Linked DNA regions of Homo sapiens: regions 1 and 3 are each linked to region 2. Evidence: fine-mapped expression QTL. A gene starts in region 2. Each other region holds a variant in brackets. All regions are shown on one strand. Distances are from middle to middle. Region 1 has its middle 33 kb from the start of ZFP36L2. Region 2 holds the start of LINC01819 (long intergenic non-protein coding RNA 1819). Region 3 overlaps LOC107985876.

Region 1 (2,760 bases), 150 kb before region 2:
TGGTATCCCTAAGCAAGGGGCTTAGAGGCCCTGTGTGGGGCTGGCCCACGGCAGGTGGGAGGGATTTTTAGGTAGGCTCAGGTGCAGATGGAGACATTACGCCGTGGCCCCACAGGTGGTTAATATTTAATCTCCTCCTTAATCATTAACTCCCTGGCTGGCTGGGGAGGAACAGGGCTGTTGTCAAATCAGTAACCACAGGCCCAGGAACAATGTCCACAGATCTCATGGCCTCTCCCATTGCTGGCCGAGTGGGGTAACCCCTGGCCCTGGGGGCCAGGTGCATCTCCCTCCCACGGTGACCTTGGGCCATGGAGAGGGCTTGAAGAGGCCAATCCTCTCCGAGCCCCTGGATCGCCCTTTACCCTCCACCCTCTACTTACTGGTGGGGAGTGGTGGGAGGTGGTGTCCATTCACGCATGAGGGTTCTAGTCCCTACCCACTCCTTCCAGGCTGTGTGACCTTGGGCAACTCACGTAGCCTCCCTGAACCTCAGTTTCCTCATCTGTGCAATGAGGATAATTATTCGTGTCTTGGAGGATTGTCATGAGATTTGAATGAGAGGAGGGTATACAAGGAAGTACTTTCTAAGCTGACGATTGAGTTAGCAAACAAGTTAGAGAAAGTACAGATGGGAAGAGACAGAGAGCAAAGGGTAAAGAGGAAAGAAAACAGCTTGAGAGCTCTTGTTTCCATCCACCCAAATGCAGTTCCTTTCCTTGGAGTTTGTTTTAATTCATTCAAGGAGTGTTGATTGATAAGGCTGTGTCTCCCTAAGTGGGGCTTTAGGGGTAATTTAAAAAGGAGTCAACCTCACCCTCAGGGAGCAAGAGTGACCAGGCTCCAGGGCTGAACCCAGCAGTGTCTGGGATGAAGGTCAGCAGGTCAGTGGGATGGGCTGGAGGGTCAGAGCAGGCCTTAAGGCTGAAGCAGGGCGGGGAGAGGATCCTGAGGGATGATTAGGAGTTGCGTGTGGAGGTGTAGGGAGGACTGTGCGTGCAAGCTTGCACCTAGGGATGTTTGTGTCCTTGAATTCAAGCACATAAGCAGACTATCTGAACACAGCCTGTCGCGAGGGTACACATGAATCACCCACAAACTCAGAGTAGTCAGCCACCCACCCACAAACACACACACACAGATGCACACGGTCACCCCAGGGGCGTGTGGACACACCAGCACCTTGGGATGGCAAGGCCCTCCTCTTCCAGCCCCAGCCCTGAGGCTTTCTGGATAACTTAGCATATGTGTCCCCCAGTTTGTGTGCTTTCTGGGCCTGGCTGACACCCATCACAGGACTGAACACTTCTGGCGTTCCAAAGTCTTCAGGTACATCAAGAAGCCACGGTATCCTCTCAAAGCCACCAGGTCTCCAGCTGGGACCCAGTGAGTGTGGATGTGAGGGAGCTGTAGGCAGAGAGCTTGGAGCTGGTATGGAGCCCTGGACACATCGCTGCCTGGGACAGGAGACAGGGCAGCTGGACATTGCAAACCCTCCCTGACCACTCCCCAGCCTGTGGGAGCAGGTGGAGGCTGGCCTGGGGGCAGCAGCTGGCGCTTCTTGGAGGAGGTGGGCATGGAGCTGGCCTTTAGAATGGAAGGATTTGAGGGGCAGAGATAGGTCGCAGGGAGCTACTGGAGCCCCCAGGAGCCAAGCCCCCAGCCCTCCTCTGGGTGGTTCACTCACATGCCACACTTGGGCTGGGCCCAGCCTGCCAGAACCAAAAAGAAGCCAAGCAGTGACT[T/C]TTTTTTTCTTTTCTTTTTTTTTTGTGAGACAGAGTCTCACTCTGTTGCCCAGGCTGGAGTGCAGTGGCTCAATCTCAGCTTACTGCAACCTCTGCCTCTCAGGTTCAAGCGATTCTCCTGCCTTAGACTCCCAAGTAGGAGTAGCTGAGACTACAGATGCATGCCACCATGTCCAGCTAATTTTTGTATTTTCAGTAGAGATGGGGTTTCACCATATTGGCCAGGCTGGTCTTGAACTCCTGACCTTGTGAGCCGCCTGCCTTGGCCTCCAAAAGTGCTGGGATTACAGGGGTGAGCCACCTTGCTCAGCCCAGGCAGTGACTTTTGAGAAACTGGGCTGAGTGGTAATAAAAACAAAATTCTGTCCTTCCCCGTGCTGCCTCCTACAGGGGACTCTGAGGACTGGAGGTCTGGGGGAGGGGTCCAGCTCTGAGCTTTCTAAGCAAATACTAAGACTTCTCCTACAGGAAGCCAGTCCTGACCCATGGTCCCTGCCCCAAGGAGTTGCTAATCCAGTGGATGCCATGGATCCAAACTGCCAGAGCCTGAATCCTGCCTTGATCTGTTTCTGGCTGTGTGACCTTGGGTCTGTTACCCGACCTCTCTGTGCCTCTGTTTTTTAATCTAGAACCTGGAGGTGATAATAGTGGAGTGAATTTGCTGCTTGTGGTTGCTGTGAGGGTTAGATGAGACCCAGGGCTCAGCACAGTGCCTGGCATATAGTAAGTGCTACAGCCATTTGAAGGAGAATGTGTTTTTGACTGCCATCTTTAGGGAAGCTTCCTGGAGGAGGAGACATATAAGCAGGCCCCTGAAGGACCAGCAGGATCCCCAGAGATCCAGAGGGAGGGAAGGTACCACTTCCCTGCGGAGGGGCCAGGGCGAGTGTGGGCAGGAAAGAACGTGGCATAGTTGGGGTCACCAGGAGCCTGTGAGGCCACAGCCCCTGCTTGGAGGACGGAAGTGAGGGTGATGATCAGGGTGGGGAGTGGTCAGGGAGGGTTTGCAATGTCC
Region 2 (2,760 bases):
CAGCACTTTGGGAGGCCAAGGTGGGAGGACAACTTGAAGTCAGGAGTTTGAGACCAGCCTGGCCGACATGGTGAAACCTTGTCTCTACTAAAAATACAAAAATTAGCCAGGCATGGCAGTGCATGCCTGTAATCCCAGCTACTCAGGAGGCTGAGTCAAAAGAATCGCTTGAACCCAGGAGGCGGACGTTGCAGTAAGCCAAGATTGAGCCACTGCACTCCAGCCTGGGTGACAGAGTGAGACTCCGTCTCACAAAAAAAAAAAAAAAAAAAGAAAAGAAAAAGAGAAAGAATGGGTCCTGATGAAGTTCCTAGGAGGCTCCCTCCTGCTGACAGAGCACAGCAGGAGTGTCCCCCTGGGCGATGGGGCCCAGCTTTCCCATGTCATTCATGGGCATCTGTTGCATCATGATATCTGTTGCAGAATCATCCCATAGTGGCTTCCAAGCAGGGCGTTGCAGCTGAGACTGGCCCTGGTCTCAGCATCTTCGGAGAGGCCCCAGATTGATAAGTGTCTTGTTCTGAGTCATGGCTCAAAGTCCCCATGACAGACAGGAATCCCTATCAGCATGGTAGATTTCATAAACCCCAAATTAGGGCATGAGATCTGAAAAAGAATCTGGGGGATTTGTGATAACATGTGAGGGCATACAAATAAGGACTCTTACTTGCTCAAGACTAACAAACTGCATGTCTTGACAAGAGTAGCCAAGATGAAATCAAATGTAGACAGGAGGGTTCTGAACACACGTGGGGTCACTGGTGTGGCTTGGCCCGGGACTACCCCTCTCCCCCTCATCACCCAAATCCACCAGAGCCTTCTAGAGGAAGCATTCTCCCCACTGGTGGCGTGGTGGGGCCAGGGCCTCGACAGGGACTGTTGTAATCATCCAGGTGGGAAATGACAGAGAGGTGGTGAGAGGCGGGTGGGCTCTGGAAGAAGTTGGAATCCTGCTGACAAGATGCTCCAGTGGTTTGGACATGGGTCTGAAAAACTCCAGGACGGCTATCCAAGGTTTCGGCCTCAGTGAATGAAGGGATGGGGTTGCCACTGACTGAGGAAGAGAATGTATTCTATTGCATATTTAATTAATTACTTTGATGTGAAAAGTCCAAATAACAACTATGTCTGGAACTGAGCAGGGCATCCGTGGGACCACCGCCCACAGGCACCCAGGGCTTATGGCACCACCCACCCCCGTCGTGGGAGGCCCCAGAGACCCCGGCAGAGAAAGAGGGAGGCTCACCCTCTTGCTGTGGTGTGTGTGGGAGGGGCAGTGTGAAAAGGTCTGGCCCACCTGAGTCCCCTGGGCTGGTAGGAGAACTGGGGCCGGGCAGGGGGTGGTGTTGGAACAGGAGGGGTGGTGTGTGAGCCTCTGTGGGCAAAGACCCACCGTGGCCCACAGAGGCTCTTTCTCCTCAGACCCGGTGTGCTGTTACCAGAGCCTTCTAGAGGAAGTGTTCTCCGAGCTGAGGGCGGCTCTTTGATTCTCCAGGCCACAAACCCCCGCAGCCCGGCCTGGCCAGAGGCGTGCCTGTGCATCCCGGCAAGTGAGCGCCCAGGGACTCTCGGCCAGAGAGGCTGTGAGGGTGGCTTTGTGAGGATGGCTTTGTGTGGCTGCACATTGCCCTTGGCCAAGCCCCGCTGCCAGGAGAGGCAGCTCGGCTGCCAAACCTCCTGAACCCAAGTTACCTGAGCAAGCAGCCCTATCCCCTCGCCTGCTTCTCACTGCCTCGCCTGCCTTGGGCCTGCCCGACCCAGGGGGTCACATGCCTTGTTCCCCATCAGTGGAGACCAGGGACAAGAAGACAGTTCTGTGGGAAGAGCCAGGAGGACCATTTGGGAAAATACAGGTTCCAGGTGTGTCTCCAGACCTTGAGAGTTGGTGTCTCCTGGGAAGAGGCCCTGATGAGATCTGGGGAGATTCGGATCTGATGAGATTCAGGAAGCCCTGGCCTCTCCGTACTTGAGGAGACGGGACACACAGGACAAGCTGCAGGCTGGTGAGCAGGTATGTTCTGCTTCTTTGAGGACAAGAGAACCCTGGATCCTTGAGGGCTCTCAAGGGGCATTTACAGGGTCTGAGCCTAAATCGAGGCATCAGGTCCCAGAGAGGGCGAGGGTGCGTGTGCTCAGACAACCCGAGGTCCCGCAGAGGCCACCAGAGCCCCCAAGGGGGGTCGGAGAGAGTCCACTTCCCGCCAGAGGTGCGATGTGGCCACATCACTGGGCACCTAGTCCTTCTTTCTGCCAGCCTCAGCCATATGATGAGCAACCAACGCCTAAAGCTTCCTGAGCTGGAGGCGGGGAGGCAGGACTGGGGAGATTGGAGCTGGAGTGGAGTGGGCCTGAGCTGGGGACGGTGGGGTTCCTGTGACCCCGCAGGGTGAATGCCTGAGCTGGTTGCTCTGGATATGTGACCTGCTCCTCCCTTCTGTAAACTCTTCACCCTGATCTGGAGAAGGTGATCCCCAAGGGCTAGGACCCACCCACCCAGAAATACACTAAATAAGTAAATGTGCTCTGTTCAGATTTTATCTAATCAGGATTCCAGAGCACAAGACAAATGGCCTCACGTCCGGCTGGGAGGTGTAATTCATTCTCCTGGGTGAGTCCAAAGCCTGGGGCAGAGTGGGGAGAGGAGGGGCGGGGTGATTTAGTGTAGTGGAACGTGCACTAAGGGTCTGGGAGGCCCTGAAGCTTGGAGTGCAGGGCCCAGCGCCAAGACCTCCAGAACAACCCAGCCTTCCTCGGGATCTG
Region 3 (2,760 bases), 51 kb before region 2:
GATTGTAAGGACTTTGAGGATATTGTTGATGGAAGTCTGATAGTTCTCAAGGAAGTTGCTGGTGAGGGCTTAAAGGAAAGTGAGAAATTTTTATTAGAAGCAGGAGGAAAGGGGACAAACCCTTATTACGTGGTGGAAGAAAGTTAGTAACATTGTCACTTGAAGCTATGTGAGCAATAGAAAATGTGCCTAATGAAGGCTGGGCACGGTGGCTCACACCTCTAACCCCAGCACTTTGGGAGGCCGAGGTGGGCAGATCACATGAGGTCAGGAGTTCGAGACCAGCCTGGCCAACACGGAGAAATCCTGTCCCTACTAAAAATACAAAAATTAGCTGGGCTTGGTGGCTCATGCTTGTAATCCCAGCTACTCGGGAGGCCGAAGCTGCAGAATCGCTTGAGCCCAGAGGGCAGAGGTTGCAGTGAGCTGAGACTGTGCCACTGCCCTCCAGCCTGGGTGACAGAGTAAGACTCTGTCTCAAAAAAAAAAAGAAAAAAAAGAAAAATGAAAAAGAAAATATGCCTAATGAACTAATGGTTTGGGCTAAAACAATTTTTAAGCAGACTGTTGAAAATGCTAGTTGGATTAGAAAATGCTAGTTGGATTATTTTAGCTGTATATGATAAAGACAGAGAAAGATGAGTTAAAAGGAAGCTTTAACTTTCAAGCAAAATTTATAAAACATATACAAGAGCCAGGGGCTTGCTGGATTTGAAAATAAATCTGCTTTTCATTCTCAGCCTCCCAGATGGCAAAAGATTCTCAAAGTATGAAAGGGCTTCAGGACAAAGATAAAACCCAGAGTGGGACTATAAGAACCTTTGTTAAAATCTCAGAAATATCTAAGGCTTCATAAAATATTTTGAATAGACAAAGGCCCTCTAAGTATTTCAAGAGTGTGCCTCAGTGCTCGCTTCAGCAGCACGTATACTAAAATTGGAACAATACAGAAAAGATTAGCATGGCCCCTGTGCAAGGATGACATGCAAATTCATGAAGCACTTCATATTAAAATAAAAACAAATTAAAAATAAAATGAAAAAGAGTGTGCCTCACAGATCCTCTTCATTAAACAACAGGGCTTCTAAGTATCTTAAGTAAATCGTTTTACACCAGCCTCACATTGAGAATG[T/C]AGAGAATGTTTTCTTGATGAAATGTTTGGTTATAGCTTTTGACTAACAGAGTGAGCCCCAATAGGATTCATGGGAAACCCACACAGTTTTTAATAGAATTATTTTGTCAGAAGCACCACCAGCTTGGGCAAAAAGGGTCAGAATAGTGTGAAATGAAAAAAGGCTTTTGGACCCCCAAAATTCTATGGGAAGGAAACAAGCTGAAAACTACTCAGTTGGAAACACCAGGTGTATTGGTCTGTTTTCACACTGCTGATAAAGACATACCTGAGACTGGGCAATTTACAAAAGAAAGAAGTTTAATTGGACTTACAGTTCCACATGGCTGGGGAAGCCTCACAATCATGGCAGAAGGCAACGAGGAGCAAGTCACATTTTACGTGGATGGTGGCAGGCAAAGAGAAGATGAGCTTGTGCTTCTTTTTTTAAAACCATCAGATCTCGTGAGTCTTATTCACTATCACAAGAACAGCACGGGAAAGACTTGCCCCCATGATTCAATTACCTCCCACCAGGTCCCTCCCACAACACGTGGAAATTCAAGATGAGATTTGGGTGGGACATAGCCAAACCATATCACCAGCCATTTTTTATAGAGAAAGAAGGATGATTCAGAAGGTGGAACCAAGAATCTAGAGAACAGAGCCAAAAGCCACAAAGAATCATTCCCAGGCAGTAGAACTGAGCCCTAATCAAGAAATTGGCAACACAATATGAGCCTGAATGGATTTCAGAATTGCTATGGACCAGTCATGGCTCTGTGCCTCCTCTCCCCTCTCTTGAATAAGAGTGTTTATAGTGGCTACACTATGCCTATCTCATCATTGGATGTTCAGTGTGTAAGCAGCAGATAACTTTTTTTTTTTTTTTTTTTTTGACACAGTGTTTCACTCTTGTTGCCCAGGCTGGAGTGCAATGGTGTGATCTTGGCTTGCTGCAACCTCCGCCTCCTGGGTTCAAGCGATTCTTCTGTCTCAGCCTGCTGAGTAGCTGGGATTATAGGTGCCTGCCACCATGCCCAATTAATTTTTGTATTTTTAGTAGAGAGAGAGTTTCACCATGTTGGCTAGGCTGGTCTTGAACTCCTGACCTCAGGTGATCCAACTGCCTTGGCCTCCCAAAGTGCTGGGATTACAGGTGTGAGCCACTGCATGCGGTCCAGTAGCAGATAACTTGTCTCTTTAGTTCACAAGTCTCTGAATAAAGAGGAATAGTACTTAAGGAAATGTGCCTGAGGAATTACATCTGAGGAACTTCCTCCATACCTGAATGGTTGATATAATGGGATCCTAGACCTCTCTAGCCTAAATCTGATGCCATAATAGATGAGATTTTGGGGGATCTTTGCAAAGGAATGAGTATATTTTGTATGTGAAAGGAATGTAAATAATTTATGTCCAGAGGATAGACTATGGTGGTTTTAAATATGGCTCAGATTGTTGACCCATTTCCTATCAAGAAATGGAACTGTTTCTCCCTCCTGCTGTACCTGGGCAGGCCTTTTTAACTGCCTTAACAAATAGAATGAGGTAGAAGTGACACTGCATGGCTTCCAAGTTCTGGATCAGGAAAAGTGACGCAGCTTCTGTCTCTCTGGATATATGCCTTTGGATTGCTGAGTGGCCAT

Evidence for each region. PIP is the estimated chance that this variant, and not a neighbour inherited with it, causes the effect.
Region 1: its variant is fine-mapped to the expression of LINC01819 in whole blood (INTERVAL, PIP 0.98).
Region 3: its variant is fine-mapped to the expression of LINC01819 in whole blood (INTERVAL, PIP 0.98).

The regions. Positions count from the first base shown.
Region 1 is chr2:43,191,733-43,194,492 of GRCh38, reverse strand. No RefSeq gene overlaps it. Among named protein-coding and RNA genes, the nearest start is that of ZFP36L2, 33 kb to the left of the region's middle. RefSeq lists an enhancer at 1-483. The variant T/C (reference allele first, on the strand shown) is at 1,746.
Region 2 is chr2:43,038,371-43,041,130 of GRCh38, reverse strand. LINC01819 (long intergenic non-protein coding RNA 1819) reads left to right here and starts at 1,588. Exons shown (of 6, transcript NR_110585.1): 1 at 1,588-2,011. RefSeq lists an enhancer at 1-128.
Region 3 is chr2:43,089,641-43,092,400 of GRCh38, reverse strand. The region is part of intron 2 of LOC107985876; the gene reads left to right. It also overlaps the pseudogene RNU6-242P. Among named protein-coding and RNA genes, the nearest start is that of LINC02580, 11 kb to the left of the region's middle. The variant T/C (reference allele first, on the strand shown) is at 1,133.